Linked DNA regions of Homo sapiens. The protein of the gene in region 1 interacts with the protein of each later gene in a pairwise test. Each region holds a gene or a part of one and is shown on either strand. Other genes may lie near its edges. The genes, in order: PCNX2, ORMDL1 and FMR1.

What was found.
Region 2: the proteins of PCNX2 (region 1) and ORMDL1 interact in binary tests that used the Homo sapiens proteins (3 or more experiments, as listed by UniProt).
Region 3: the proteins of PCNX2 (region 1) and FMR1 interact in a two-hybrid assay, tested with the Homo sapiens proteins (one large-scale study listed by IntAct).

The regions. Positions count from the first base shown.
Region 1 is NC_000001.11:232,988,165-232,991,823, reverse strand, and holds part of PCNX2 (pecanex-like protein 2), read left to right. Parts: intron 1-3,659. UniProt on the Homo sapiens protein: May play a role in tumorigenesis of colorectal carcinomas with high microsatellite instability (MSI-H).
Region 2 is NC_000002.12:189,771,996-189,774,440, forward strand, and holds part of ORMDL1 (ORM1-like protein 1), read right to left. Parts: intron 2,120-2,445; coding exon of another isoform or gene 2,110-2,119; exon of another isoform or gene 1,854-2,109; intron 1-1,853. UniProt on the Homo sapiens protein: Plays an essential role in the homeostatic regulation of sphingolipid de novo biosynthesis by modulating the activity of the serine palmitoyltransferase (SPT) in response to ceramide levels.
Region 3 is NC_000023.11:147,939,261-147,942,919, forward strand, and holds part of FMR1 (fragile X messenger ribonucleoprotein 1), read left to right. Parts: intron 1-1,315; coding exon 1,316-1,402; intron 1,403-3,659.

The DNA.
Region 1 (3,659 bases):
ATCCAGGTGTGGGCAGGCTTGGTTCCTCCTGAGGGCTGGAGGGGAGTGGGGTCCAGGACCCTTCCCTAGCTTGTGGTGGTTCACCGGCCATCTTAGGCATCCCCCGGCCTCGAGAAGCACCACTGAGCTCTGGCTTGGTCTTCACATCATGTTCTCCCTGTACTTCTCTGTGTCCACACGTCCCCTTTTTATAAGGACACTGGTCATCATGGACTCAGGGCCCATCCTACTCCAGTATGACCTCATCTTAACTAATGACATTTGCAACGACCCTGTGTCAAAGTAAGGCCCCACCCTGAGGTCCTGGGGGTTAGGGCTTCAACAGAGGAGTCTGGGGAGGGAACATGATTCAGCCCGGAACACCCACGCGCATCCCATGAGCACCCCTCCCCCGCAGGCCCCCATCTGGTCTGCTCTCTCTCTCACGCCTTCTCTCCCTTCTCTCAGCCCTCTCTTATGAGCCCACATCCCCAGCACACGGTCTCTTGCTGTCCCTCAACAGTGTCAAGCATTCTCCTTTCCAGGGCCCCCTCAGCTGCTGCCTCCTCTGTCCCCAGTGTCCCTCTCCCAGGCTTGCAGCTCCTTCGCTTACTCACACAGCCTCCCATCAAATCCCAGCTTATCCAAGAGACCCTGGCCAGCCTTCCATACAGCACTGCTGTCCCCCTGCCCCACTTTCTCCTCCCCTCCAATCCCTGCCTGATGCATGTGCCTTGTCTGTGGTCAGAATTTCCCATGAGCTGCTCACTGCCCGGCACCTAGGACAGTGCAGCCCACGGTGGACGCTCAGGTGGGCAGCCCTAACTTCTGCAGAGCCTGTGACAGGAGCACATGTGAAGACCACACCACCCTCTTCCCCACTCTCCCCACATCCTGCCAGGTGAGGGGCTGCCTGCATGCACTGGAGCCTCCCCATTCACATGCCCGTCTGGGGGTGCACGTGCCTGCAAGTAGGCCCAAGGTCCGCCCTGGGAGACGACCCTGGGGAAGAGGCCTGTGCAGGCCCCAGTTTGGGGCAGGGAGTTCTGGAGTCCTGGGAACCCAGCACACGGCCAAGCAGGAGTGGGTGGGAGCTGGTTGACGTGCTCCTGTCTCCACAGCTTCCTGGCCCTGTGGGGACAGAGACGGCTGCAGGGGCCACCAAGGGAAACCTCTGAGGTGCTGGGCTGGGTGGTAAGCATGATCTGGGCTCAGCAGACAAAGGTTGGACGAATGAGTGGATGGTTACCCCTCCTGGCCTCAGCCACTTACACTACAGCTTCCCTAGAGGGCGAGGGTGCAAAGCCCTTGGGTCTCAGAGTTGCAGCTGTAGGCAGGTTCTGTCACAGCCAAGAGCAGTGGAGCCAAGAGCTGCCGATCTTGTTGGCTCTCCTGAAATGTACCATCATGACCTTGGTGCCCCAATCCCCCGGCCAGAATCCCTCCAAGATGTGATTCAACTATCCAGAAGGCTCTCTAGCACTGACTGCGACCGGGAGCACAGAGCTTTCATTCCCCTCAAGACACTGCACCTGAGACCCAGTGTGCAGGTAGCCCAGGTTCCAAGGAGAGCAAGCCCAAGAAGGAGGCTACCACAACGGGAGGGGCGGCTCTGCCTGGCCCTGCCCGGGACACTTTGCGGAAACCACCTACCTGCCATTCCCAGCAGGCCATCATTCCCTTCAGGGATGTGAGGATAACTGGATTTGATTTCAGTCTCTGGCCTCCTTCTCACCCTCCTTCTAGTTAAGTAAAACAACCATGCCCGTCCGAGTTGAGACACACAGCTCCCAGAAAGGAAGCCAGAGACCTGCTTGGCCAGTGCAGGGGCGTTAGAGGCCAGTCTCCAGCTATGGGGAGAACATTCCCTGATCCCAGATCTTTGGACTTGACCCTGGAAGTATGGAGGAATCACCTTCCTATTTTCCTAACCTTTAGCTTGCCCTCCAGTCTGCAGTGGCAGCCCCTTGGGCCCATCTACAGGCGCTTGCCTATGGGTCTCAGCCTCTAGTCAAGATATTGATTAATTTTTTGAAATGCTTCTAATGGCCAAGTTTAAGAAACACTGTACCCACCCCGAACTTTCTGAAGCTCACTGGATTTCTAATCAGCGTTTTGGCATCTGGTCAGTTTTGCAGGTTTGTCCTGTGTATCCTTTACTTACATGTTAGTGTACTGGGTGCTGAGCTCATAGAAGTGATACAGGGGTCCTTTGCTGCAGAAAGGGCACATAGTGGAGAGGACCGTGCATCAGACAGTGACAACACAGTGTGCTGAGTGCCATTGGAGAGGTGGTTGGGGGCCTCTCAGAGTGGAGGACCTGCCTCTCTGGGAAGGGCATGACAGAGACCCTTAGCCAAGTAGCAAAGAGTGAGCAGTTTTTTTTTTTTTGAGACGGAGTCTCACTCTTTCACCCAGGCCGGACGGCAGTGGCGCTATCTCGGCTCACTGCAAGCTCCGCCTCCTGGGTTCACGCCATTCTCCTGCCTCAGCCTCCTGAGTAGCTGGGACTACAGGTGCCCGCCACCACGCCTGGCTAATTCTTTGTATTTTTAGTAGAGATGGGGTTTCACCGTGTTAGCCAGGATGGTCTCGATCTCCTGACCTCGTGATCTGCCTGCCTCGGCCTCCCAAAGTGCTGGGATTACAGGCGTGAGCCACCGTGCCCGGCCGAGTGAGCAGTTTTGAAGGGCGAATTTGAAACAAATTCTAACAAGGGTCTTGTTTTACTCACCAAGTCACCAAGACTCAACTCACATAACTGGGGACCCAACTGCCCCCACCCTTCGTTGGTCCTTGCCTCAATTCTGGTCAGGTATCCCAATCCTGAGCCCTTGCTAGAGGCTGAGCGGACTGGGGTCCCTCCTGCCTGAGACCTCACAGACAGAACTCCTCTCCCCAGGCCAGCCACGCTGTGCATCTGCTGCTGCTGGTGCACACAGCACTTTGCACCCAGCTGCCAGGCGCTCACTACGCCAGCCTCATCTAGGTCCTGACAACCTGCAAACGTCTTGCTGGGGTAAAAAGCATATGTCACAGCTGGAAGGGGAGTTGGCCTAGCAGTGGAGGCTGGTGACCTACTTACTGGTGAGCAGTTAGGAATTCATAACTAATCCGAATCCCAGATTGGAGAGGGAGGCTGTGTTCTCATATTACTAAGGAGCTACACCACGATTGTTCAGATAACATCAAAGACAAAGGAATTAAGTGCCACGATAATAAACCAAGGAGGGTGATTTATATGTAAGGTATTTCCATTCAGGTTCTAAAAAGGTTTTCCCTAGAAACATTCATAACTTGGTAATAGAGTTATTTGCAAAATAAGTTAAATTGTAAAATAATGATCTTGAGTAGCACAAATGCATTTAGCATGGTTTGCTTCCTTAGTGCTGTTCCATTTGCAAAATTAATTAAAAAAAAAAAAGAGCAATGAGAAAACCTGAAGCAATGAAATCGGGTGGCGGGGGAGTCCTTGTCTTGCACAGACTACAGCAGGCCACTTCCCTTTGACACACAGTGGGTTATTTGTCCCCTTGTTCCTGGAATTCTCTAGGAAGTTCCCCACCAAGTATGGGTGGTCTTCTATTGAGCATCACAATCACTGACTTGTGGATAAATGTGGAGTATTTTTGGACAGTGATCAGCTTTACGATAGAAATCACAAACACACGTCCGGCCTT
Region 2 (2,445 bases), on another chromosome or scaffold:
AGCATAAATACCTAAAAATGAAACTATTTTTGAGCACTAAAACAAGAGGAATCGGTTTGGTCCCAAGTTTATCTCATTAGGAACTAAAAAATTTGTTTAATGGAGGTCCACATTTTCCATTTCTGCAATTGTATTAAATACATTTAATAGAACACACTGCATCCTTTAAAGCAAGGCTTATCAAACTAGGGTTCATATGCCCTCTGTAATTACAGGTGTAGTTCTGTATTTCCATGTATGTTTCTGAAAAAGATATGGATTCAAAGCATTCATCTTATTCTCAAAAAGTTTTGTGACTCACAGGTTAAGAACCTGTACTGTAAAGCTCCAAAAAATGGGGTTTTAGTGCATTAGTACAATTCCTATCTTTGAAGGAAATAAATATTTGGTTGCCCTTTTGATGTTCTCATTTTCATACTGTAGTTGAGCAGCTCTATAACCAGTTTAACCGGTAACCTGAAAGACACTGTTGTACCATTCCAGCTGCTTTTTAATAATCAAATGCATGTATGTTTTTGGATATCCAACTGAGAATTTGTTTTAACAAGCCCCAAGCCTAAAAAGCACCTTTAAAATCATAAATCACCAAGTCCAGAATGTTTAGTTTTACCTACAGGTATATCATATCAAGGTGCAGACACATCATCTGATTACTAACAGAATAATACAGATAAGATGTAAAGAATAAAACATCATATCTTATTTGTTCATAATTAAGAAGTTAGTTTCTATTTAGGTCTTTGCAGTACGCAAGGAAAGTATTCTAATAGCCTTTACTGACATTAGTTTCTCATAAGGGAAAATAAATATCTTGTGTAACATGGTTAGAAGAGAGGAGCTACTTCCAAGTATGACAAAAAACATCACAAGAGAATTTTATACATTTTTAAAACCATCTAGATTGAGAAATTCTACAATCTTCCACCTATTTTGCAAACTACAGTCAGAAAATTCTTTCTCTAGTGTAAACCATATTCCTCAATTCTGAAATTCTTTCTTCCTGTTTTCATATATTTGAAGACTAAATTTATACTTCCTTTACTGAACAAAATAGGACATCACTTGCATTTAGCAAACTCATTTCATTTCCCACCATCATTACAGGTTGAATCTATAATCTGATAGGTTAGAAATAATAAATCTTATAATGGGTTCTTTTGACTATAACCTAGCATATGTCCCCTTTTTGTCTTTTAATTAAAACTAATTTTGTGTGTAGATTATATGAAAATTACTTGACTCTTTCAAAAACTTAGGCAATCCTCTGATGGTATGCAAAACCCAGGTGGGACTCAGTGTGACAACATTTATTTGCCAACAGCTATATTGGAAAGAGACCTGTATTACAAGATAGTAGTTTAGGGTTTAACCTGAGCTCTGAACTCCAACTAGGTGCAAGATCTTCAACAAGGTAATGCATTTGAGTCTGTTTCTTTACTTAAAAATCTGGAATATGGTGGCTCACCCTGTAATCCCAGCACTTTGGGAGGCCAAGGCAGGCGGATCACCTGAGGTGAGAAGTTCAAGACCAGCCTGGTCAACATGGTGAAACCCCATCTCTACTAAAAATACAAAAAGTAGCTGGGCACGGTGGTGCACGCCTGTAGTCCCAGCTACTGGGGAGGCTGAGGCAGGAGAATCGCTTGAACCTGGGAGGCGGAGGTTGCAGTGAGCCAAGATTATGCCACTGCACTCCGGCCTGGGCAGCAGAGCAAGACTCTTGTCTCAAAAAAAAAAAAAATTCTGGAATAACATTCCATGTCACACCTACCTGACAAATAATCAAATAAGAAAATGTGAAAGCACTGAAAAGTCCTAATGCTATATAGATGGCTTTAATGCTATTTCTTCAGTTAAGTAAGCAATTTAATCAGAATATTTGAAATCATACCTGTTGGTCAAAAATACATTTTGAGAAATATGGACACTGTATACAGGTACATCTCAGTTGGCTTTTTGTGTGATAGCTGTGATTAAAACTTCTGAATGTCAGGCATTTTACATGTATTATAATGCAATCCTCAATGTTTTACAGATGAGAAAACTGAGCTTTTGAAGAAAACGGCCAAAAGTCACAGAGCTTCAAAGGGGTTGAGCCAAAATCCAAATTCAGGGCCATCTGAATAACCAATATTTTTGTTATTACATGCATGCATGCATTCATTCACTTATTTATTTAATAAATCGGGTCTTGCTCTGTTGCCCAGACTGGAGTACAGCAGTGTGACTACAGCTCACTGCAGCCTCTTAACTCCTAGGCTCAAACCATCTTCCTGCCTCAGCTTCCCATGTAGCTTACATTTATTTTTATCAGACTACACTGACACTTTTCTTTGAGGTTAATATTATATGGGACTAAATCAATTCAAAATTTCCTCAAAGGGCTATAAATTAAGGAAAAAGAACCCCATTATTTTATGATCAGTTTATTCCTTTCACTTTAAA
Region 3 (3,659 bases), on another chromosome or scaffold:
TTTTCCCTCTTAATATATATATATATGGGCTAGGAGTACAGACATTTAGCATATGCCTTTTAAAAATCTGTTCTTATGTTAAGTAGTGTCCATAGAGAGAAGTTCAAACTTTCCTTGTGATTCAGCCTTTTAAAATTTTCAGAGTACATTATTGAAATGTGTATGGGCTTGATAAAACTTAATGCTTGTCAATGTACCTATTTTTTTGTCTCACAGATTATTCAGTGCATTTTTATCCTGATGTTTTTGTTTGTATTTTGTGTGTACTCTATTTACTTGGTTAGCAGAAATGATTTACTTTTTACTTTTGTACCCTTGGTATTTCATTTTGATTTTTTTTTTAAGAATTTGATCGGCCAGGCGCGATGGCTCATGCCTGTAGTCCCGACACTTTGGGAGGCCAAGGCAGGCAGATCGCCTGAGCCCAGGAATTCGAGACCAGCCTGGGCAATGTGGCGAAACCCCGTCTCTACAGAAAGTACAAAAATTTAGCTGGGTATGATGGCATGCACGTGTTGTCCCAGCTATCCAGGAGGCTGAGGTGGGAGGAACACCTAGGGCCTGGGGAGGTCGAGGCTACAGCGAGCCATTATCATGCCACTGCACTCCAGCCTGGATAACAGAATAAAAAGACCCTGTCTCAAAAAAAAAAAAAAAAAAAGAGGCGGAGGCGGGCGGATCACGAGGTCAGGAGATCGAGACCATCCCAGCTAAAACAGTGAAACCCTGTCTCTACTAAAAAAACAAAACATTAGCCGGGCGTAGTGGCGGGTGCCTGTAGTCCCAGCTACTTGGGAGGCTGAGGCAGGAGAATGGCGTGAACCCGGGAGGTGGAGCTTGCAGTGAGCCGAGATCCCGCCACTGCACTCCAGCCTGGGCGACAGAGCGAGACTCCGTCTCAAAAAAAAAAAAAAAAAAACAAAAAAGAAAAAAAAAAAAGAAAAAATTTTGATCAGGATAAAGCCTTTCATAAATGAATTAGAGCATCTTATACTACTCATTTTGTTTATACATCTCATGGTAAAGCTTGTATAATTTTGAATTATACATTTTGTGATTTTGCTGATACTGAATACTAGTCTTTATAATAATCTGATACGTTTAAAAGGTTGCTATTGATCTATTCGTATTCACAGTAGATGTGTAAAGTAGTATATCAACTACTTTTGTTTTCATATATTGATTTATATTTACAGCAAACATTTGTATACCTGCTGTTCACCAGATCCTGTGCTAGGGAATTAGTCGTTATTTGCATTTTTCAGATTAATCTATCATTACTTTTATAGGATCATTGTTGCAATTTCTTTTTCAGGGTATGGTACCATTTGTTTTTGTGGGAACAAAGGACAGCATCGCTAATGCCACTGTTCTTTTGGATTATCACCTGAACTATTTAAAGGTGAGAACAGAAAGAACTTTAACTTCTAATCCTTTTGTACTAAAATATACAAACTTTATAGTAGATCTTTCAGCAGTTAGGACTCATTCTAGCCTGTGCAAAACACTGTATGACTTGTCAAAGGTAATAGAGAAAATACGTTGTTTGGCTTATAATTTTTTTAAAAATGGAAGTCTTTATAAATTTAAGTACCAATATACCAGTTTTCAATAAAATTTTATACTTCCCTTTATTCTTCTCTTAAACCCTTACACTCAGTTTAGGCAATCCTGTACATAGCCTGTTAATCCATTTGATCCTTTCTAGCATTTTGGTTTTTTCCAGACAAAAATCTGTGTCTATAACTCTTGCCTTTATTGTTCCTTTTATGTCATTTATCAAGGAAATCTAAGCATTTCATGAAGTTCTTTGTTTAAATGTTTACCCTATTTTTCTCTTTACTGTTATTCAAAATACAAACTATTTGTGTCTTCTCATAAATGTTCAGTTTAGTTAGTGTGATGCGGTTATGCCTCCTTAAAATTTCAAACTGGAAGATAGGAACGAGGAGGCTACAAGGTGTAGTGGAGCAAGCACTGGATGGGCAATGCAGCAATTTACTTATAAGACTTCAGCAAATGAACTAGCTGTGTGACTTTAGGCAAGTCACTTCCCTACACTAGATGCTTCTTGAAATTCCTTTTGGCCAAAATGTTCTATACTTTAATGAAATGGAAACTGATCTACTTCATTTTCATAATGTTTTATTTGTATCCATACATATCAAAATTATAATGTAGCTGGTATTAAATGTTTTTAAAAAGCATTTCAACTCTATTTATGGCATTAAGAATTTTTTTGCTGATTTCTTGAAAGAAATAAAAAGTACATGATTTCTGCTTGTGTGTAAATAAGAATGAAAGGAAGAAAAAGTGTAATACTGGGCATGCCATTCATTCTTATGGTGGCCAGTTAATTAAAAGTGGAAAGGTTTCATCCAGCAAGGTTTACATGGGTAGGATACCTCTTTGATTTTTTTTTAAGTATGTTTATGTGTAATCTCTCTGTGTGTGTGTCTCTCTCGTAATTAGCTTAAATCATCATGAAGGCCTGGAGAGTTAGGATTGCATTGTATCAAATCCCTTGTTCTTTTGACTAATGTTCTTTCTTAGATCCTTTGATTTATTCTCAAGAATATCTTCTTTGGTTATCAGCAGCTGCCCTGTTGCCATTCTTTCCATCACCAGAACTTCCCTCGTTTGGGCCTGGCATCTCTCACCAAAAGGTGACTGCTTTGCCCCAGTGGGATAACCTGGACTACTCTTCTGTTTTGCAAGATATTCCTATTCCATGAGCTATTACTATACCTTTGGAGGAAGTCACTCACTCAGCTGCAGTCTCTCCTTTGCTCAAATTCTATGTAAAACAGATTCTGGTGTAACTATGTAAATTGCTAATGATGGCAGAGCACAGATGAAACGGACCAAATCCTTACCTGACCTTTCTTTTCCAGAAGCTGCCACAACCAAGATTTTAGAAACTTAGCTTTACAGGAGCTTCTCCAATGACTGTTCATGTAGACAGTCTCTATGATAACCTCTGCTTCACTGAGACGCCTACTACTACTATAGTTATGAATCTGATTCCCCGTAGCCAGTAAATGAGATGTTTATGAGTGGATTGGAAGGACAGTGGTTAGAAATGAGGTTTCATCTGGTTTTAACAGAACCCAACATACTGGAAGTGCTTTTTGTAAGGGTCTGTCATTGGACCCCAGGTGTATATTTCTATCAACTAAATGTATACTGTTTCTCGTACTTGTTGTAGCAGAGTTGTAGTCTTTAGGAAGTTTTCAAGGCATGATGTAAGACCTAGCTGTCTGGTCAGCTATTAAATAGTTTTGTTTTCCCCTCATGAGGAATAGTCAGCATTTTCAGTTGATGAAAAAATCATTGTTCCTTAACCATAGTATATGTTCTTTTAAAACAAAAGATGGCCCAAACTCAATGCTTTGTAAATTAAGATATTAACTGGCAAATCTATTTTAATCAAGATTATTTACAATGTGTGATTTTTAAGGTTAGCTGGTTATACCTTGAATGTCATTTATCTATATTCATACATTTTAGCATGTTTTATTTAATATCCTATCATGAAGAAGTCCCCAAAATAGCATATCTGTGCCTTAGCAGTAGAATAATTGGATAATAGTGCCAAATTAGACAACTTTAAATTTTATTCAGTATAATTTTACTGCTGAGTGTTTTTGTTATATCTC